Linked DNA regions of Homo sapiens. The protein of the gene in region 1 purifies or fractionates together with the protein of each later gene. This does not show direct contact. Each region holds a gene or a part of one and is shown in the gene's direction. Other genes may lie near its edges.

Evidence for each region.
Region 2: the proteins of TMEM98 (region 1) and ERGIC2 purify together in Homo sapiens (co-immunoprecipitation; 2 studies listed by BioGRID and IntAct, with this or other methods). This does not show direct contact.
Region 3: the proteins of TMEM98 (region 1) and PTPRU purify together in Homo sapiens (co-immunoprecipitation; 2 studies listed by BioGRID and IntAct, with this or other methods). This does not show direct contact.

Annotation. Positions count from the first base shown.
Region 1 is NC_000017.11:32,923,335-32,931,158, forward strand, and holds the start of TMEM98 (transmembrane protein 98), read left to right. Parts: upstream 1-4,818; 5' UTR 4,819-4,903; intron 4,904-7,565; exon of another isoform or gene 7,566-7,637; intron 7,638-7,824. UniProt on the Homo sapiens protein: Functions as a negative regulator of MYRF in oligodendrocyte differentiation and myelination. Interacts with the C-terminal of MYRF inhibiting MYRF self-cleavage and N-fragment nuclear translocation.
Region 2 is NC_000012.12:29,364,050-29,371,189, reverse strand, and holds part of ERGIC2 (endoplasmic reticulum-Golgi intermediate compartment protein 2), read left to right. Parts: intron 1-967; coding exon 968-1,076; intron 1,077-2,902; coding exon 2,903-2,949; intron 2,950-4,242; coding exon 4,243-4,313; intron 4,314-7,140. UniProt on the Homo sapiens protein: Possible role in transport between endoplasmic reticulum and Golgi.
Region 3 is NC_000001.11:29,239,385-29,246,524, forward strand, and holds part of PTPRU (receptor-type tyrosine-protein phosphatase U isoform 1 precursor), read left to right. Parts: intron 1-7,140.

The DNA of each region.
Region 1 (7,824 bases):
CCAGACTGGGCAGCCAGGCAGAGGGGCTCCTCATATCCCAGACGATGGGTGGCCAGGCAGAGACGCTCCTCACTTCCCAGACGGGGTGGCGGCCGGGCAGAGGCTGCAATCTCGGCTCTTTGGGAGGCCAAGGCAGGCGGCTGGGAGGTGGTTGTAGCGAGCCGAGATCACGCCGCTGCACTCCAGCCTGGGCACCATTGAGCACTGAGTGAACGAGACTCCATCTGCAATCCCGGCACCTCGGGAGGCCGAGGCTGGCGGATCACTCGCGGTTAGGAGCTGGAGACCAGCCCGGCCAACAGAGCGAAACCCCGTCTCCACCAAAAAAAAACGAAAACCAGTCAGGCGTGGCGGCGCGCGCCTGCAATCGCAGGCACTCGGCAGGCTGAGGCAGGAGAATCAGGCAGGGAGGTTGCAGTGAGCCGAGATGGCAGCAGTACCGTCCAGCTTTGGCTCGGCATCAGAGGGAGACCGTGGAGGGAGAGGGAGGGGGAGGGGGAGGGGGAGGGGGAGAGACCAAATTTCTTTGTATAAAAGTGTTAACCCAAGTGGAACAAAAATTAGTTGAGTACCAAGAAAATACTTTGCCAGATTTGCATGCTAAATCAGCGGATACTAAAATTGTTTAGATATACAATTTGAATGAACTCCATGGTCTAAGTCAAATTACCTATGATAACCCATCAGTTGTCAGTGCTATACAGCTAAACTGGAGAAACAACTGGTATTCAAGATGACGTAAGTCCGATGTTAAGCATGGACTCATGGAGAACCAGGACAGCAGCCTTGCCCTTCCTGAGTCCTTAAAGCTTTTGTTATTCAAGGTTATGCACTCCATGACTCATCATGGAAAAGATAAAATAATCCAAATTAAATATATATTGGTGTGCTGACTTATACATTGCTAAAGTAGTTTATAACCAATGTTTGGTTTGTCAAATCCATATTCCTGGGAAGACAATCAAATCTTCAAGTACATTTGGCTACCTCATGGGCCATTTAAACATTTCAATTGCCATTTTCAATGCATGTTTCTGGTTGTAAAAAAGCTTTCCTATGCAAGAGGGCTGATGTTATAACAGTAGATTATTATGCTACAGTGTATTTTCACCAGGTAAAGAAAGCTTTTTATGGGTCACTGAGGACAATCAACCCCTTCACAATCTAGAACCCAAAGATTGGGTCTTCTGAGAATATCTACTGTAAAGGCTATAGTTACACAACAGATTTTAAATTCTTTTGTGAAGGTTACGATAGAATCGGCTGAACAGAGAAGTATCTGTGCAGCTGCTGGCACTTGTGGCTTATGGAGAAATACATCAAATGAAGATTATAGAGATTTAGTTGTAGGGGATTAACGAAGAGATTTCTTAGTTAAGTGAGTAGATTCTTTAGCACATTCTTTGATTTAATTTTAGGTGGTTTGGTTTATGGGGATCCTTGGTATGAAGTATGCTCCAAACTCTTAGTATTATCCTCCCAGTAGTCATAATAATAGTCTCCCTGGTGCGCTGTATTATCTCAAAGGCTTTAAATGCTTGCATTCAGCCATCTCTAGAATGTCAAATGGTCTCTTTTCAAGTGGAATGACAAGAGCTGAAAGAAGTGCATGACCAGGAGGATACCATAACCTATGAATGATGTGGTGAGACTGGAAACCCAAAATGATGGCAAGTGAGTGTGGTGCTAAGGCCTTAAATTTTGGTCACACTCTCACCCAAGTGAGAACCTGACCAAAAAGGGAGAATTTTTTTAACAAAATTATGAGAGGCCAGTGTTTTGGACTGACATCATGTGCTAGGCCCCAGCAAACCAAACAAACCAAAACACATAGATCCTAAAACAGACCAGGTTTTGTTTTTCTCCTGCAAACAGGATGTTCCACCATAAGGAGGTACCCTCTACTCAGTCCTTGTTCCCACTGTACAAAACTCACTGTTGTTTTACTGTTTCCCAGTGGGTTTCAAGACCAAATAAGTTCATTTATGATGGTGGTAGTGACATGAATGACTAAAGGTTTGGTCAATCTCTCAAAATTGAGAAAATGACCAAAAGGGGGAAATTGTTAAAGCAAATTAAATATAGCCTGAGAAGGACTCCGTATTTCTATATTGGAGTCTCTGTGGATGAACGGTAACCTAACTTAGGAATATGTGCCTGTAAAAATAGCTGAGTCTTGGCCAATCCCAGCAACCCCAAATCAGGCCAGGAGATAAGGTACTTAATAAAACGTGGAAGTGCTCTGGATAATAGTGGCCATTTTTTTATTGCCTTCTTCCAAACTTATGGAATCACTTCCTTTGTAGTAATTAGCAGAATGTTTCAATTCATCTCCATAATGAACATTCCTGACAGCATAAGTATCCACCCCCTGAAGTTCCTGTTAAATCTTTTAACCATATTCATTTCCTTTCACATAGAGACCATCAAGCTTCAGATGATCATGTGACAAAGTTTCCAGTCAGTTCCAAGTGAAGACACCACCCCTGGCCATCAGGATGCCACACTGTCTCCACTAGACAGAGTAGGGCAAGAGTTCCATGATCTCCAGTAGGTAGGAACTACGCCCCAAGTTGGCATAAAGCAGTTACAGTTCCTCTGCATCCCATAAAGATTTATGGGGGTCATGTCTCTCAGGAGAGAGATGAGGCAGGAGAATAGGGTCTGGAGGCAGGAAACCTAAGGGTTCACCTGACTTCCTAGAACTAAATCAAAAGGAAAACCCCAACTTTCCGCACCTAAGTAACAAACGGACCAGAGACTACTCCCTTTGCAACCCCCACTCCCCACTTTCTGCTTGGCAGATGGAAAATCTTTTGAAAGTACCTCTGATTGCCTTTCCGCAACCAATCCTGCGTTTGCATAGAAGTGTAACTTTGTAACTTCACTTCAGCCTCTGATTGGTTGTGGAAAGCAACCAGTCAGACTGATTGCGGCCAAATATTCTTTTGCATAGGAGTGTAACTTTGTAACTTCACTTTAGCCTCTGATTGGTTGTGGAAAGTAACCGATCAGACTGATTGCGGGCCAAATCTTCTTTTGCATAGGAGTGCAACCTTTGTAACTTCACTTCAGCCTCTGATTGGTTGCTTTCCACAACCAATCAGACTAATTGTGGCACCACTTCATTTACATGGGGTGAACGCCAAGTGGCCAATGGGAAACCTCTAGGAGGTATTTGGACCCCAGAAGATTCTACAGCAGGGGCTCTTGAGCCCATATGCAGGGGCCTGCTCCCACCTTGTGGAATGCACTTTTGTTTTCAATAAATCTCTGCTTTTGTTGCTTCATTCTTTCTTTACTTGCTTTGCTTGTGCCTTTTGTCTAATTCTTTGTTCAAAATGACAAGAACAGGCCGGGTGCGGTGGCTCATGCCTATAATCCCAGCACTTTGGGAAGCTGAGGTGGGTGGATCACCTGAGGTCAGGAGTTCCAGACCAGCCCGGCCAACGTGGCGAAACCCCGTCTCTACTAAAAATAACAAAAAAAATTAGTGGGACGTGGTGGCGCACACCTGTAATCCCAGCTACTTGGGGGGCTGAGGCAGGAGAATCGCTTGAACCCAGGAGGCAGAGGTTGCAGTGAGCTGAGATCGTGCCATTGCACTCCAGCCTGGGCAACAGAGCCAGACTCTGTTTCAAAAAATAAATAAATAAATAAATAAATAAATAAATAAAGGCAAGAACCTGGACACCCTCCACCCGTAAACAGCCAAGACTGTGCCACAGCACTCCAGCCTGGGCGACTGACTGAGACTCTGTCTCAAAAAAATTAAAATAAAACAACAAAAGTATGAACCAAAAAAACCACCTCTGTGGGCTGGATGTGGCCTTGGGGGTACCAGTTTGCAGACCCTGTGTCAAGCGGCCTAGGACCCAATCTGTATCCTTTGTTAACTGTCACCGATACTGACCTCAGACCTGGACCACTGGGATCCTGCCCTGAACCCCGTGCTTTAGTTGGCCCACTCCAGCTGGAGCGTATGTTCCCTTCTAGATCATGCTCCTGGTACCCTGGACTCCGGAAATCCCTGTGTAAACAGCCCTGAGCCTGCTTCCAAGGTCTGACTTCCATCCACCCAGGGCAGCCTGCCCTGCCTGGCCTGAGTATCGTTAGAATGAAGGATGGCAGGGTAGGGGGTGTGTGTTTGCCTGAACCAGTAGACCCCCTTCAGTATGTATGGGATGGAGTCGTGTGGGAATAGAAGCAGCAAGACTACTAGCAAGGGCTCTGCATTTGTACTCTTGCCCCTGGCTAGGCAGTCGCCAGGGGTGGGCCTGCTTCTCACTGACCCGTGGGTCAGGCTGTAAATAAGAGCGACCCTCGATTCACTCTTTACCCTGGGCCAGGCAGTCCGATGCATCCTGCATCCCATCATTCCTAATACCAACTCTGAGGATGCTGACAAGCAGCAGCCCCGTTTTACAGACCGAGGCACAAAGGCTGAACTAAGTTGTCCATAGCTAGTGAGTGGCAGAGGCAGGGTTTCAATGGGACAGTCCGTGGCGGAGCACACTGGCTCCGCCGCCAGCCCCCCTGCGGTACCCATCCGCGCTCGCCGCCTGGGACCGCCAGCCCGGGGCGGGGCGCAGGCAGGGACCCTCCGCTCCCCTCTCCGTCTGCCGCCCGGACGGGCCACCGCGGGGGCGCGAGGAAGGGGTGTTGGGTCGCCAGGGCCCGCCTCCCAGCTGCCCCGGCCGCCGGGGGGCCTGGCGGTGACGGCGGCGCCTGGCGGCGGGGATTTGGCGCGGGCCGGGGGCCGGGGGCCGGGGCGCGGGGGCGCGAGGCTGGATTCCTAGGGCCGCGGCGCTTCCCGGCATGCTCCGCTGCAGGCCCGCGCCCGCGCCCGGACTTTGCCATCGGCGGGGCAGTCGCGGGATGCGCCCGGGAGCCACAGCCTGAGGTGGGTGAGCCCCGCCGGGCCGGGCGGGCCGCGGCGAGTCGGGGAAGGGGACGCGGGGGCGCGGGGCCTGGCCCGGCTGCCGGGGAGAGGGGAGGCGGGTGCCGCAGCTTTGTTCTTGCCGCGGGGCCGCGCGCCCGAAGTTGGGGAAAGGAGTAGGAGCCGCGCCCCGGAGCGCTCCGGGGCCCGTGCGGCGCGTCCCGGGCGGGCTGGGGGTCCCTCCCTCCCGGGGACAGAGTGGGCGTCCTGGGTGGACGAGCACGGGGAAGCGGGTAGGGTCTTGGGTCTGTTCTGTCCTTGTGGTTCTGGAACCGGAGGGGAAGGGGGAAAGTAAGGGAGAGAGAAAGAGACGGAGAAAAACAGGAAAACTTACTCTTCAGTACGCAGGGAAGAATAGAGAAAGAAAAACACAAAGAAACGCCACGCAGACTGCAGAGAAGGACCACGAACACACGCTCCGAGAAACACACTCAGCTCACACGCACTGAGAAGCACACTTAAGATAAACACTCAGGTCACACACACAAGCACACTAAGAAACATTCAGTTCACACACACTCAGAAACACACGCACTCAGAAGCACACAAGATAAACACTCAGCTCACACACAGAAGCACACTCAGAAACATTCAGTTCACACACACTCAGAAACACACGCACTCAGAGGCACACAAGATAAACACTCAGCTCACACACAGAAGCACACTCAAACATTCAGTTCACACACACTCAGAAACACACTCCGAGAAACAGTTCACACTCGCTCAGAAGCACACTCAGCTCACACACACAAGCACACTCGGAGAAACATTCAGCTCACACACACTCAGAAACATACTCTGAGAAACACAATCAGCTCACACCCACTCAAGCACACTCAAGATAAACAGCTCACACAAGCACATTCAGAAAACACTCAGAAACATAGCTAACACTCAGAAACACACTCTGAGAAACACAGCTCACACACTCAGAAGCACACTCTGAGAAACAGCTCACACACACAGAAACAGAAAAACAGCTCACGCACACTAACACAAACACACACGGAGAAACACACTTAGAAGCACACTCAGCTCACACACACCCAGAGAAACACGATCAGAGAAACACTCAGAACGCACAGGAAGAGAGAGGAAACCAAGTGGGTGGTCTTGGAGGCCTGGGGACCGGGGGAGGGGAAGGAGAGACACTGAGAAGCGGGAGACGGGAGCAGCAGAGGGAAAGATGCCTGGAAAGAGAAACAGAGATAAAGGCAGACATAAGAGGAGGCAGAAAACACAAAGGCCAAAAGGAGGTGGTTAAAAGGACAGTAAAGAGAAACACACACGTAGAGAAACAGAGGCGGACCCTGAGAATTACCCCCCTCCCCCACCTACCTCTCACAAAATCAGCGACACACACAGAAGAGGCAGATGCCAGCCTTCTCCTTCTTGTGGTCCAGTGAGCTCGAGATGGGAGAGCAGCTCTGTGAGCCCTTTGAGAAAGGCTTCCTTGGCACTTTAAGCCAGGCATGTCCCAACCTTGTCTACCTGGCAAACTCCTGCTCATCCTTCAAAACCCAGCTCTAGCCTCACCACTCCTGTGAAAGTGTCAGTTCCCAGAAAGTGTCATGCAAGCACAGTTACTCTCTTTTCTGTGTTCTTCTGCAGGAAGCACAGGCACATGGAGTTGAAGTGGTTTGTCACCTGTCTGCCTCTCCCACCAACTCCTTAAGATCAGGGTCTCTGTCCTATCTATCTCCAATCTCCAGTGCATGATGCATAGTAGATGATCAATAAATACTTAGTGAATGGTGACCGAGAGCGTTTGGACCCTCCGAGACATGGAGGATAGAATTAAGTGCAAATAGAGGAAAAGCACCCTCCTGGTATTCTAAGGACTCCTAAGTCAGAGTGTCTTTTTTTCACGTGGGGAAATTAAAGCCCAGAGAGGGGAGAATGCTTGCACAAAGAGAGACAAGCAGGAGGCCTACAATGAAATAACAGTGAATATGTACTTCTGTGAGATGCCCTTGTTCTTCTGGCTTATGAGTTTAAAATAGGTGTGAAAGACCCCGTTCTTCAGTTCCTCTCTCCAGAGGCAGCTACTGTTATCAAGTTACATTTTATGTGTGTTTGTGCCTATCGATGTGTTCATACTAAAAAAATTCTGTGCACTAGTATATACAAATGCACGGACTTCTTTCATTCTTCTTTTGTACACAAATAAAAGAATTCTATGAGAAAAAGAAATAGATGTGAAACAGTCTCCTGAGTGAAAACTGGCAAGAGGCAATGGACACTTTAATGCCAGTTCTAAGTTTCCAACACTGAAACTGGCAATTAGAACTCTTTCCAGAACCTTTACAGTCTTCTTTCTTCCTTAGAAAGGAAAAGTAGAGTGAATGTCCATCTCAGTGTAAGTGGATGGCTTTCCATCTCCTGACTGCATATTGGAAAAATTCTGTAACCTCCCTGAACCTCAGTTTCCTCAACTGTAAAATGGGATTACTAATATGTCCACTTCATAAGATTGTTGTTGGAAAAGTTAACAAAGAACCTGGTGCAGAGTAGATCCTCAGTAAATACAGTTTCATCTTTCCTCTCTTTAATGGGTGTTCTTTTGTGCATGTTTTTATGGCTGCGAAAACAACTGCTAGTTAAAATGTTTCCTTTTGTCTAGGGTTTAAAAAGCTATTTTAAGGCCGGGCTCGGTGTCTCACGCGTGTAATCCCAGCACTTTGGGAGGCCCGAGGTGGGTGCATTACTTGAGGTCAGGAGTTCAAGACCAGCCTGGCCAACATGGTGAAACCCCGTCTCTACTAAAAATACAAAAAATTAGCCGGGTGTGGTGTCAGGCACCTGTAATCCTAGCTACTTGGGAGGCTGAGGCAGGAGAATCGCTTGAACCCAGGAGGCAGAGGTTGCAGTGAGCTGAGATC
Region 2 (7,140 bases), on another chromosome or scaffold:
TAGTATTTACCTCCTAGGGGTTACTATACTATTAATATTTTCATAAAATGCTTAGACCCAGTGCCTGGTACAGATAAAAGTATCAGTTAAGTAAAATAAATAATGAAATATATAAGAAAAATGTGTGACTATAACAATATTCAGTATAATTTCTTTCCCTATGAAAAGGTAGTAAAATAATGTATTTCACTTAAGGTTGACATTTTATTTGGTAAAATGGGTAATAAGTTGCTTACTATTTCTGATCCACTTGTGATTAAGTTTTGTTAATGAAAATAGTGCAAGTTCTTGCAAAATCTATTTTAAGTATTTTGCTTTAGTATATAATAGATTTTCTTTTTGTCAGATCTTTTACTCAGTTCTGTGAATGAGGTGATATATTTAGGAGATTGCCAAGTAGAGGAGAGTTTTGTTAGCTATTTAGAGATGTTATTTGAGTTTCTGGCACACAGATTATTGTGGTTTCTCAGGATCTAAGAAATTAGGCTACCTTTTTGTTTGTTTTAAATTGGGCTTATAGCCCAATTTATATACATTTATATACAAATTATATTTATAGACATGGATGCATTTTTAATAATGAAGCAACTGTTTTCAAATTTGTGCTATAAGGCATGCTTACTTTCATCATTTATCCTATCTGTGACACTGTTTTATATAAGAAATACAAATTTTGTCAACTCTACTTAGTGAGAGATGCCCTTAAAATTGGAGAAATAAAATGCTTTCTTAGTAATGCAAGTGTTTATGTTCATATTTGTATATATTAAACCTTAACTTTTGAGCTGTATTAGAAAAAATGCATAATAAACATTTTGAATAAAAACCTTCTATAGTATGCATTCAAATGGAAGTTACATTATTAGGCTTTTTCTTTTGAAAATTTAATCTCACTTAAATTAGTTTCCTATTCTTTGCTTTTTTTATTGTTTTAATTCTGTTTTTCTTTTGTTGTTGGATTTCCCAGTTTCTCTAATAGCATTTACAACTATGGCTTTATTAACCATAATGGAATTCTCAGTATATCAAGATACATGGATGAAGTATGAATACGAAGTAGACAAGGATTTTTCTAGGTAATCATTTTTTTTCTTCTTGGAATACCTTTAGATTCAAATTGTTTTAAAAAGAGCATACCTTTTAAAAAAGAAAAAGTCTAACCTTCTAGATTTGGTTTGTTTTAGTTCTGAAGAAATAGTCCTGAAAAATTCTCATTAATTGCATGCATTAAGTGAAACCTTTTAGAATCATTTAAATAGTGGTTGAATTCTAAAACTGAGGTTCTTTGATTTAGCATGCTTTGTTTCAAAAAGTTAGGGGAATATTTTTCCTTAGATATGTATATTGTGGAAATTGTTTAATATTTGAAACTGGTTGAAATACCTCACTGATCTGTGTGAGCTGGAAAATAAGTTGTCTAAGGATACATTGTATACCCTTATGACTTGATGTCTATAAATTATACCTAAGCTAAATCTTTATGTAAATAAGATTACTTTTAAACTTTTGAAAATATAGTACCTTAATTATACACTTTACATCTATTCGTTTGTATTATTTGGATTTCTTCAATGGAATGAAGATAATAGGTTTATAATATTAAGATTGCACCAAATAGGAAGACACATTTAGTTTTCAATTACAATCCAGGTTTGCCATTTACATAATTTTAGGGAATTTACTAAATCTGCACCTGTATATGCTTCAGTTTCCTTTTTTGTAAAGTACAGACAGCAATTATAGTATCTTCCTCAAGAGGTTTATGAGAATTAAATTAGTCAACATTTGTAAATTGCTGTGTAACCTTGGGCAGGTCACACCACTGACTTCTTTTGGACTTCAGTTTCTTCATCTCTAATGTACTATTCAGGATAGTATTGGTTTTCAAAGAATTTGTTGTTGTTTTCAGCACCAATGCAATACTTCATTTTTTTCCAAATGAAGTCTTATGTATTACATAGTTCGCCACATAAGCATGGTGAGGATATGCAGAAGTTTGTCTACTTGGCCTACTCCTGGTTCCTATCTCCTGAGCCTAAACTCCTGGGTTATTTGGAACACAGTTTGAACTCTAGATGACTTTAAGACTTCATGAAGGTCTAAAAATCTGTAATTCCTATTTTAAATCAGATGAAAATTATTACACAGAAAAAAGTTATCATAGAAAGCACAGGACTGAATTTGATCATAGCCAGTCTATTATTCGCAATGCTTCATTCTGGTATTCGAAAATTGCTTTGATCTAATCATTTGAAAATGAAAGGCCATGAAAAATTTTAAGCATCAGGTGATTTACTTTTGGTAGTTTGGTTGCATTTATCCTGAGTTACATAGACCTAGTTTCCAGTATGCCACTTTAATGGTGATGTGATCTTAAGCCAGGTATTTACACTACCGTGAACACCAGTGGTTTACTTGAAAATCTGTGAAGCCATCCATTTATAGCTCCATGATATAGAATAAAGGAGATAATATTTGTAGAACATCTAGCATCATGCTTAATATATGGTGTTTGATAAACAGAGAAGAAAGACAATTCCTAATTCTTGATTTTGAGAGTTTTACATTCTTAAAAGAACATTCTATCAAAAGTTTATGTAAATAGAGATTAAGAGGTTAAGACTTTTTCTGAGTTGCTTAGAGTTATTGATTATAGAGTTGCCATTATTAAAGGATACTGTGTTCAAAAACCTGTGAAGTCAGAAAGGCTTTTGGAATAAGGGCAAAATAGAACTTGTAATTTAAAGAGCCTTTGTTTTGGCCATGAGAAATGCAATTCAAGTTCTAATCGACATAATTTATTCTGCTTGAAATCCAAGTTTTTAATAGGTCAGTTGATTTATATTTCTCATGTTTTGCTAATTAATTGGTAGGTACTAATGTTTAATATTTTGTCTTTCAGCAAATTAAGAATTAATATAGATATTACTGTTGCCATGAAGTGTCAATGTAAGTACACCTTCAACTTGCTGAATCCACATGTAGGTTATGGTTCAAACAATTGCCAAGCAAAAATAAAAATCACTGGTTGTACTTTATTTTTCCTTTATAATATTTTAAAGTTTTACTGTGGTATTATTTAATAATACAAATTGTTTTACTCCTCAGCTTATATTCTTCAAGTTTCTTTTCCATAAAGAGAAGAGATAAAACTTTCACATTAGTATAATTAAAAGAAAGTTGGAGGAAATGTTTGTGAATCAGCATTCTAGTTTATGTACATCCTTTCTGTCTTTTTTTGTTTGGAGTACTAGCTTTTATACCCATGTTTCACAAGCATATCCTTGTGTCACTGTTTCAGTTTACCACCTTTTATGTTTACTCTTGCGTTTAAAAATACAGATCCAGTTATTTTAAGTTAATGGTGATAGGTTACCCTTTTCTTTTTTCGTCACTGGACTCACTTGGTTATACTAATAGAAGTGGAAAAATGCTAATATGCCAGATAGTGAATGTTTGAATCAATACTGTTTTCAAAAATAAGAATGCTTTTGCATGAAAAATATTTTATGAGTTACTGCTTAAAAATTACAGACCAAGAACTCAGAGAAAATTTTTACATTTTTAAAAGTATGAAATAATTTTACCCAATTAATTAGAGGTTATTTTCTGTGAGATTCTATCTCAGAACGACCTTGAATCTCTTTCTTTTCAATATGTTTTTCCTTATGTTGGTGGTTTTAAGAGATAAAAAAATACTTTATTTTTAAACTTGTAGTTAGTGGTAATTCTGAATATATGATATTCTGCCTTATTTTGGATGTTTAAATACTGTTAAATTTTAGCCTTTTCCGAATAAAATTTCCTATTTGTTGATTTGTAGCATAGCTTTACGATTTCTTTTAATCTCTAAAAATATTTCTTGGAATTAATATTTTGTTCAGCAGCCACTTAGTACTTGTGATTAGGTTCTTGCCGATATTTGCAAAGCTCTTCAATTCAGTGACGCTTATCCTTTTTAAATGAGATCTTGAATTATCTTTTTTTTTTTATTGGGTAAGAAGTTTTTTACTGGGTAAGAAAAAACATTATTACATTTTGGAATAATCTCCACCTAAGCTATATAAGGCTACTGTTTTAGCTTTTGGACAAATATATCGGAAATTATTCTACATAGTTGGTGAGGTTTTTTTTTTTTTTTTGCTTGGTGAGTTTTCTGTTAGTTGGCTTAATTTGTTTATATTGGGGATGGTTTGCCTCCAAGCATAGAATGTAAAACTTCTAATTCTTTTTTCTATGCAGATGTTGGAGCGGATGTATTGGATTTAGCAGAAACAATGGTTGCATCTGCAGATGGTTTAGTTTATGAACCAGTAAGTTTGATTCACATGGTTTTTTGAAATACACGGGTTGAGGAATCGTACGCTTGAAGACAGATAGTTGCTTTTAGTTTTGTCTGAAATAGTTTTTAGTATAATTCTTTTATTTCAAAAGTAATCCATATTCTTTGTAATAAATTTAGGGGGAAAAACAGAAAAGTTATATTATATACCAAAATCTTGAGGTGACCATTATTAACATTTTGGATGTATTTTGGATGTGTCTAAAGTCTGTTTTATAACCTTTTTTAATATTTTTGTTATTACTTTCCAGTAGTTTCCTTTTCACTTTTCTTCTAGTTATAGTGATGAGTTTTTTTCTTTTTCTCTAGTAATTTGGAAACTTTTATGTCCTGTTTGTATTCTACTATGACCAAATTTAAGTATTTAAAATATTTGAACTGTATTTCTCTTACAATCAAGAATAAAGTAGTATCTTTCTAAGAGGAGAAATGTCATGGGCATTACTACTTCCTTCCTCCTTTACGCCTCTATTTCCCTCAGCGTGTGAAATGCTGACATTTTCTTATTATCTTCAGAGCACAAGTTGAATATAACATCGTAGATTTATCAGAAAATATTGTCACATTTCAGTGGCAGATACAGTGATAACGAGTCATGATCAGAACTAGCCCTAAATAAGCTTTCGAGAATAAGCATGAGGCCCTCAGCAGCTAAAAGTTGCTCTGTTGGCATGGTGGTACTTAAATTTACGCATGCGTTCTTGAGTTCCTTTTCTTAATCATTGACAATTGTGAACCTTTCTTTTAGCAAATTTGCAAAGTGAAGAGTGAAGGTGAAGGAGGGGGAGTAGAAGTGACTGAATGTATGGGGTTAAAGGAAAGAAAATGAAGTCCTTGGCCAGTTTTGATTATTGAATTAATTTTAGTTTACAGCTACAAACTTGATATGTGCCTTTTGACATATACATTTTAAATAGAAATTTCTACAGAAACAGTAACTTTTGTTATTGCCACTCTGACTCTACTTTCTGACTCGTTTTCCCACTCAAAAAATCGATTTTGAAGTAATTTTTTATGAGCTTAGTTACCTTACAGATTCATATATGACAGCATATTACACTATTATCTGCTCATTTTGATCTAAGTGATTATTATTAGATATTTTAATATTTGTATTACATTTTATACTATCTTAAGAATACTTATTTAACTTTAACTTTGTTTTTTTTTTTTTAATTTTCTGCCATTCTTACCTTATTTTTGTTTATCATTTTGAAGAGGGACTGTTTTTTCAACTTTTAGTTTAGATTCATGGAGTACATGTGAAGGTTTGTTACCTGAGTATATTGTGTAATGCTGAGGTTTTCAGGTTATGATTGATCCCATCACCCAGGTACTGGGCATAATAACTAGTAGTTTTTCAATCCTTTTCCTTCTCCCTCCCTCCCCTCTCTAATAGTCCCCACTTTCTGTTGTTGCCATTTTTATGTCTATGAGTACCCAGCGTTTAGCTCCCACTTATAAATGAGAACATATGGTGTATGGTTTTCTGTCCTGCCATTTATTTGCTTAGGATTATTGCCTCCAGCTGCATTCATGTTGCTGCAAAGGATAAAAGTTTCTTCTTTTTTATGGCTGCATAGTATTCCCTGGTGCATGTATACCACATTTTGTTTATCCCATGTACCACTGATGAGTACCTAGGTTGATTCCATGTATTCGCTATTGTGAATGGTGCTGCAATAAAGATCAGAGTGCATGTGTCTTTTGCATACAATGATTTATTTTCCTTTGAGTATATACCCAGTAATGGGATTGCTGGGTTAAATAATACTCTACGTTCTTTGAGAACTCTCCAAATTGCTTTCCACAGTGGCTGAACTAATTTCCATTTTTACCAGCAGCATATAAGTGTTCCCTTTTCTCCACAGCCTCTCCAACATCTTTTTTTTTTTTTTCTTTTTGACTTTTTAGTAATAGCCATTCTGACTGGTGTGAGATGGCCTCTCATTGTGGTTTTGATTTGCATTTCTCTTATGATTACTGATATGGAGCATTTCTTCATGTTTGTTGACCACTTGTATATCTTTTGAGAAGTGTGTGTTCATGTCCTTTGCCGACTTTTTAATGGGGTTGTTTTTTACATGTTCAATTTATTTAAATTCCTTATAGATTCTGGATATTAGACCTTTATCAGATGCATAGTTTGTGAATATTTTCTCACATTCTGTAGGTTGTCTGTTTACTCTGTTGGTAGTTTTTGTTTTTGTTTTCTGTGCAGAAGCTCTTTAGTTTAATTAGCTCCCACTTTTCAATTTTTGTTTTTGTTGCAATTGCTTGTGGGGACATAGTCATAAATTCTTTCCCAAGGGTGATGCCCACAATGGTGTTTTCTAGGTTTTCTTCTAGGATTCTTATAGTTTAAGGTCATTTAAATCTTTACCCATCTTGAGTTAATTTTTGTATATGGTGAAAGATCTGGGCCCAGTTTCATTCTTCTGCATATGGCTAGCCAGCTCTCCCAGCACCATTTATTGAATAGAGAGTCCTTTCTCCATTGCTTATTTTTGTTGATTTTGTCAAAGATCAAATGGCTGCAGGTGTGCAGCTTGATTTCTGGATTCTCCATTCTGTTGAGGGGGGACTTTTTGAGATTTATTTTACAGCAAGAATGTGTAGGTATGTTTTATGGATTCTAGCATGACTGCCTGTATCTTCTGCTATTATCTTTTATTACCCATTTTCTCTGTTGCTCTGAACTGGGAAAATCCCTTTCACATGGGTTTTTCTATCCTATGAAATAAACTTATTTTGTGCTCTTTCTCAATTTGGTTTCATTTGTATGTTGTCTTGTATAA
Region 3 (7,140 bases), on another chromosome or scaffold:
AGTGGCTGCCCAGTGGTTTCAGGTTGGGCAATAAAGGCTTGTCTGGGCATCCCTCCCTTTTCCCTGGGGCTAGGGGAGGGGACTTAGCAGGAAGCAGTGACAGTGGCCGAGGTGGGGACGCTGAGCTCCTGGACAGCCTGCTGCCCAGCTCTGGTGTCAGAAAAAACCTAGGGCAAGCATCGTGCTTGATGGAGACAGGCCACCATCCTTCCATGATTTTCATCAGCTCAGCTGGGCATATGGGGTGGCCTTTCCATGCAGGACTGGGTTGGCCAGAGTTGCAGGGGGTACCTTGTGCTCCTCCTTCCTCCCCCTCCCCCCTTTTCCTAGTTGCCCTCCTGCATCCTGGAACGTCCTGTCTGCCCTCTCAGAGACTCTTTCATCTGTCTCCTTCTGTCCGTCCTCAGCTATCTTTCACCTGCAGGAAGACTCCAGCCTCCTCCTTCCCTCTTTCCCTCATGGTGCCAGGGATCTTTGTAAAGTACATTTTAACTCAAAGGGTTTAAAACCCTTTGAAGGCTCCCCATTGCCTTCAGGGTGAAGTCCTTATCCCTTGGCCCTGTTGCTGGCTCTAGCTCCTGCCTGCCTGTCCAGCTGCATCTTGTTTTGTGTCACTGCCCCTTGCATCCTATGATCTGGCCAGCCTGACCTTCTTACCAAAGACCCAAATGCCCACAGCCTGCTGTCTCCTCTCTGGGCCTTTGGGCAAGCCGTGCTTTCTCTGCAGAACTTTCTAACTCCAGCTTTTTGCTGGTGAACTCCTGCAACTTGATGGGCTCTCAGCTGTAAGCATCATCCAGTCCCTGAAGCCTTCCTCGGTGATGCCCTGTCCTAGCCTAGGAAGTCGGGGGGTGGGGGTCAATTGGATTTTTACATAGCATTGTAATTATTGTAATTACAGTTTATTAGTGCTGTCTCCCTTACCAGACTGAGAGCTGAGGACAGAGACTGGGTTTTTAGTTTACTTCTGAATCTTAGTGCCAGGTACAAGGCCTGGCCCACCGGGTCTGAATAAATATATATGGCCTGAAAGAATAAAGTTTAAGGGGGCCAGGTTCAGAGGTGGAGATGCCAGATGGGGGTGCACTGATTCCACTGAAGGTAGAGATTGAAGAACCAGGTTTCCCTCCAGGAATCTGGAAAATTCCTGGAGGGTGGGGGATGGTGTTATGTTGTGAAAAGGCCATGTTGAGAGTGTCATCTGGGAGCTTTGAGTTGGGGAGGTTGAGTCCCTGGCAAGAGACTGAAGGGAACGGGCCTCCTGCCTGCCAGCCCCTCCCCCAGGCTCTGGCCCCACCCCTAGCAGCTGGCAGGGCCCTTCCAGCCCCCAGTCTCAGGCTTTTGTGATGGGGCCTGGCAGTTGGTGAGACGTTGAGTCTCAACGGTCTGTGTGAGTGGCTGGGGAGGAGGGAGGGAGCCCGCAGGGCCCTGTGTTAGGAGAGGGAGGGAAGCTTCCTGGAAGACCCTCCCTTAGTCCTCAGTCCTAGATCCTAGGGTGGGCGGGTGGGGTCACAGCCTCTGTTCTCACCGCTTGTGCACCGGAGGGAAGGGAGGAGAACTGCATCCCGTGGTGGCCCTGGCAGATGGGGTTGGGGAGGCTGGCTGAGGTGTGTGCAGATGTGACTCTAGCATCTGGGCAGTCAGAGTGGGGGGTGTGTAGGGATTGTAACTAGGGGCATGGACACATGTGACCTGTTAGGGTGTCTAGCCATCTGGTTATCGTGTGGTGTGGCAGGATCTGAGTTTGGAGTAGGGAGGTAACCAGCTGCTTTGACCCCTGGGGAGCCTGGTGCTAAGGGTGTCTGGCTATCCAAGTATCACATTCCTGGAGTTGGGTGCAGAGCTATTTGGATGGGTGGTGTCTCGCTATCTAGGTGTGGACAACCCAGTACCAGCATGTGGGAGGATCAGGGTGTGCAGACAGAGGCTATCCCAGCATCCCTGGGGCTGGAGGTGGGTGTATCCATGTGTCTGGGAGTCCTCAGGTTAGTGGGTATTTATAAGTGGGGAGTGTCTCTGTGTTGTGTCCAGGTATGGGGCTGGCCAGGTGCCTGAGTGTCTGGTTGTAGGGGTCCCCAAGTGTCCGGGTATCTGAGGGTGGGGGTATCTGTGTATGAAACAACAGGGACCCAGTCATTGAAGTATCCAGTTGTTAGTGAGTCTGGGTGTGGGGTGCCATGTGTCTATTTTTTTTTTTTCTTCTTCTTCTTCTTCTTCTTCTTTTTTTTGAGATGGAGTCTCACTCTGTCACCCAGGCTGGAGTGCAGTGGCGTGATCTTGGCTCATTGCAACCTCCGCCTCCCGGGTTCAAGTGATTCTCCTGCCTCAGCCTCCTAAGTAGCTGGGATTACAGGCGCACGCCACCATGCCTGGCTAATTTTTGTATTTTTAGTAGAGACTGGGTTTCGTCATGTTGGTCAGGCTGGTCTTGAACTCCTGACATTGTGATCTGCCTGCCTTGGCCTTCCAAAGTGCTGAGATTACAGGCGTGAACCACAGCGCACGGCCTTTTCTTCTTTTTTATTCAGATGGAGTCTCGCTTTGTCACCCAGGCTGGAGTGCAATGGCATGATCTCGGCTCACTGCAACCTTTGCCTCCTGGGTTCAAGCGATTCTCCTGCCTCAGCCTCCCGAATAGCTGGGATTACAGGCACCCGCCACCATGCCTGGCTAATTTTTGTATTTTTAGTAGAGATGGGGTTTCACCATGTTGGCCAGGCTGGTCTTGAACTCCTGACCTCAGGTGATCCACCTGCTTCGGCCTCCCAAAGTGTTGGGATTACAGGTGTGAGCCACTGTGCCTGGCCTCATGTGTCTATTTGTATGTTTAGATGTGGAGGTGCCCTTGTGACCTATGGTGGTGTCCATGTATCCAGGATGTGTCCACAAGGGGTGTGGACGTGTTGGGTGGGAATGTCCTGGTGGCTGTACCCAACTCAACCTCTGGTAGCCCCTTCCCTGGGACTTGCCTCCTGATCGCTCTTCAGACTCCAAAGCCAGAAGCCTTGGAAGGGGCCCCGATAGTTCTGTTTTTCAACGGTCAGCCTAGAGCTGTGTTATCTAATAGAACCTTCTGTGGTGATGGAAATTGTCCTCTACCTGCATTCTCCAATACGGTGGCTCCTGAGTCATGTATGGGTATTACATTTAAATTAATTAAAATAAAAATTCAATCCCTCAGTTGCACTAGTCAGATTTCAAGTCCTCAAGAGTCATATGTTGCTAGTGGCTCTCATTGTACTGGTTAATGCAGGCAGAGAACATTTCCATCCTCTCAGAAAGTTCTGCAGACAGCACTGGTCTAGAGGCATGAGGCGGCCTGCAGCACCTTCAGTGAGTCCTGGGCATCTCTGGGAGGGGAATTGGTCTGGATGGACCATGACTCAGTGGCTCTTGACAAAAGGTTTTGTTCAATCCAGGCCCCTTCTCTGCAGCCTTATTAGATCTTGCCTGGACTATTGCAGTAGCCTGGTAGCCTTCTTGGCCTCTACTCTGCCTGCCATCACGCTCTCGGTTTCTTTTTTTTTTTTTGAGATGGAGTCTCACTCTGTCACCCAGGCTGGAGTGCAGGGGCACCATCTTGGCTCACTGCAACCTCTGCCTCCTGGGTTCAAGCAATTCTTCAGCCTCAGCCTCCCAAGTAGCTGGGACTACAGGCGCGTGCCACCACGCTCGGCTAATTTTTTGTATTTTTAATAAAGACGGGGTTTCACTGTGTTAGCCAGGATGGTCTCCATCTCCTGACCTCATGACCTGCCTGACTCGGCCTCCCAAAGTACTGGGATTAGAGGCATGAGCCCCCGGGCCCGGCCCAGGCTTTTGGTTTCTAATGCTTCCACCACCCTGTGGCTGGAATAAGCTTCTAAGGCAGACATAGGATGCTGCCACTCCTTTGTCCCAAGCTGAAGGCTCCCCAGAACTCAGGGGACAAAACCCAAACCCTAGCATAGCACATGAGGCCCTGCATGACCAGCCCTTTCTTTCTGAAGCAGCTTCACATGATGCCTTTCTTCCCTGATCCCACTCCTGCCTATCCGCTGTCTGCTCCAAATCACCAGGCAAATTGCTGATCCAGGAGCCTGCCATGCCAGTTCACACCTCTCTACCTTTGCACACACTGTGCCCCTCCCTACTTCTCACCTCGTGGTGGGGGTGGGGGATCTACCTACTTGTTCAGCCTTCACAGTTCAGCTCCATTGTCACTGATGCAGCGAAGCCTTCCCAGCCCTCTCCCGGTGCAGTTGGTGAAATTTCTCCCATAGTGGACGTCTGACAATGTGCTGCGGTTTTCCATCTCCTTTTTCCACTAGGCTGGGAGCCCCCAGGGGCTGAGCTGTGTCTTTGTCATCTGTGGTCCCCAGGGCCTATACGTGGGAGATGCCCACTAAGTGGCTGCATCTCGATGCCTCTGGGTGCACAGGGAAGGCTTGGAGGGGTGAATGCAGGAGCTGGGGTTCTGCAGCACAGTCATGGGTGGGCTGGCTATGCCTCCTCCTCTGGCTCTGGGTTGGGGGCTGCCATTTCCTGCAGAATGACTGTGGGAGGACCCCTGAGGGGGACAGCTCAGAAGATGCTGCTTCCAGATGACGCAGGAGGTCTTGGGCAGATTCCCAAGATGCAAACCACAAGACCTTGTGATGACTCAGAAGGGACAAGGAGAAAGGGGGCTTGGAGGGCCGCTGAGGCTTGGGAGTTTGAGGGCAGAAGCTGGGGAGAAAGATTGAGATGGGGCTGTTAGGAAGGGGAGATGCTGAGGATATTTGACAGGGCAAGATTAAAGCTAGGGGTGGGGTGACAGCTCAGCCCCCGGGGGCTCCCAGACTAGTGGAAAAAGGAGACGGAAAACCGCAGCACACTGTCAGATGTCCACTGTGGTGGGTGACAGCTGAGGCCTGGGGGACCACTGGCGGATAGAAGATAGCTGGTGGGAAAGATATACCTGGGGGATGGGACAGCTGACAGTGAAGGGACAGGCGGTATTGGGGGAACAACTGAGGGTTGGGGGACAGGTGGATGATAGAACAAGGAGATGTGGGTGATAAGATAAGAGGTGGAGATAAGAGGTGACAACTGGGAGCTATCAGAAACCTAGTGGATAGGACAGGTGAGTCTCAGCTGAGAGTGGGAAATACATTGCTTAGAATGTGTATGTATGTGTGTTTACAGGAGCGTGCATGTGGACTTGTGGCTGGGCATGCCTGTCAATATGTGTTTGTCTAGCGTGTGGTGGTTAAGAGCATGGGTTCAGGGCCCAGACCATCTGGGTTCTAATCCTAAGCCCACCACTTCTAGCTGTGTGATACTTTGGTAAGTTACTGACCTCTCTGGGCCCTTAGAGTTCTCATTTGTGGAATGGGGATAATAATAGGACACACTGCATGCGTTTGTCATGAGGATATGTTTTATGGTTATGATTATGTAGGTTAGAACAGGTCCTGCACATAGTAAGCACTGTGTAAGTGATCACTGTTATGATGTGTGTATTTGCATGCGTGCGGTCATCCTGTGTGCCCAGAAAAGTTTGTTCTTGGTTTCTGATGAAGTCCAGGCCTGGGAGGGAGTAATAGTGGTGGGGACGGGGGTGGTGGTTGGGGAGTGCCTAGCCAGGTTGATTGAGTCTGGCTCTTCTCTGACATCCTAACCTCTTGTTCATCCTACTTCCTGCTCACCCTGTCCCAGGGCCTTATCCAATAATAGGTCTTTCTCTCTATCTCTCCTCTGTCCTGCCCTGGGCTGGGGGCCAGGGGCTGTACTTTAATTGTCTGAGAGCTTTACCAGCAGAATTTGAATTCATTGTTTTCCTGCCAGCATGCTGGGATTCTGCTCAGTTATAATACCTGGACAATGTGCTCGATTCTAGATGGCCTATCCTGTGGGTGGCAGTGGCTTCAGCCTTTGCCCTTGGAGAGTCACTGGGGTGGAAGATGTTGGAGGGAGGGAGACAAGCCAGATGAGATTTCGGCCCCCAACTTGTGGGGTGAGCCAGCGTGGCCGGGCAGAGCTGTAGGTAGAGAGTTTTCCAGGGATCTGAGCTCCCCTCTCCTCCAGTGCATCACAGGGAGGCATCATGACCCTCCCAGCAACACTGTTGCAGCGTGCCAGGCTCTGGACTGCTCTGGATGTGCACTGTCTGGGATTCCTGGGTCCAGCCTCCTTGCACAGCCCTGTGTCTCAGCCCTCTACTTCACTGGGATTGCTGCATTGCATTGAGGGTGTGCGTTCTCCTGAGTTTCTGCATGCTCTGCCTCTGCATTGTCCCATTGGACCGTGCCTCCATCCTGCCATGATCCTGCCATGGTCCTGCCATGTGTGTGTCTTTGCTGCTCTCTTGTATACTGTGTCACTCTGCTGGATGTCAGTGTTGCATTGGGAAGGTGAATTCTCCTGGGTTTCTGGGCGGAGCTGCTCACACTGCACCACTGTCTGAGATCAACACATGGTTTTCTGTGGCCACATTGCATGTTTGTGTCATAGAGCATTTATATTCTGCACCCCATTGCCTCACCAGGCAGTCTACATTGCATTGGGCACATGGACTCTTTTGGGGTTTGGGCATAGCTCCTCGCATTGCAGCACTGCACCGTGCCAACAGATGGCATGCTACCACAACATTGCATCTTGGCATCACACAGCATCTCTGTACTGCACTGCACTATTGCATGGACGTCAGTATTGCATCAGGACTGTGAACTTTTCCTGAGTTTCTGGGCATGGCCCCTCTGCATTCCACAGTTGCATTGTACCAACAGTGCACTTTGCCCCATATAGCACTTCTGTGCATGTGCACTGCTTTGCTGCACTGGATATGTGCCTCATGGCCCAGCCCTTGCACTGCACCACTGCTGCTGAAACGCTGCCCCTATGGTGTCCTGGCCTTTCACGCTCCTACCACCATGGTATCTGTAGGCTGGCGTCCTTTTCCAGGTTTTTGTTGTCAGCCCTACGTGAACAACATCTTTGCATTGAGTGTCCTCACTGCCCCACGTTGCACATGACTCAGGGAGTCTATATCTATAGTACAGCTTGGGACCACTTTCTTGGGCTTCAGGACTGGCTTAGGTTTGCAAAGGCAGCACCACTGCACAGTATCTGACATTGCATTCGTGCACTGCACAGGATTACTGCCCAGGGCCTCTACCC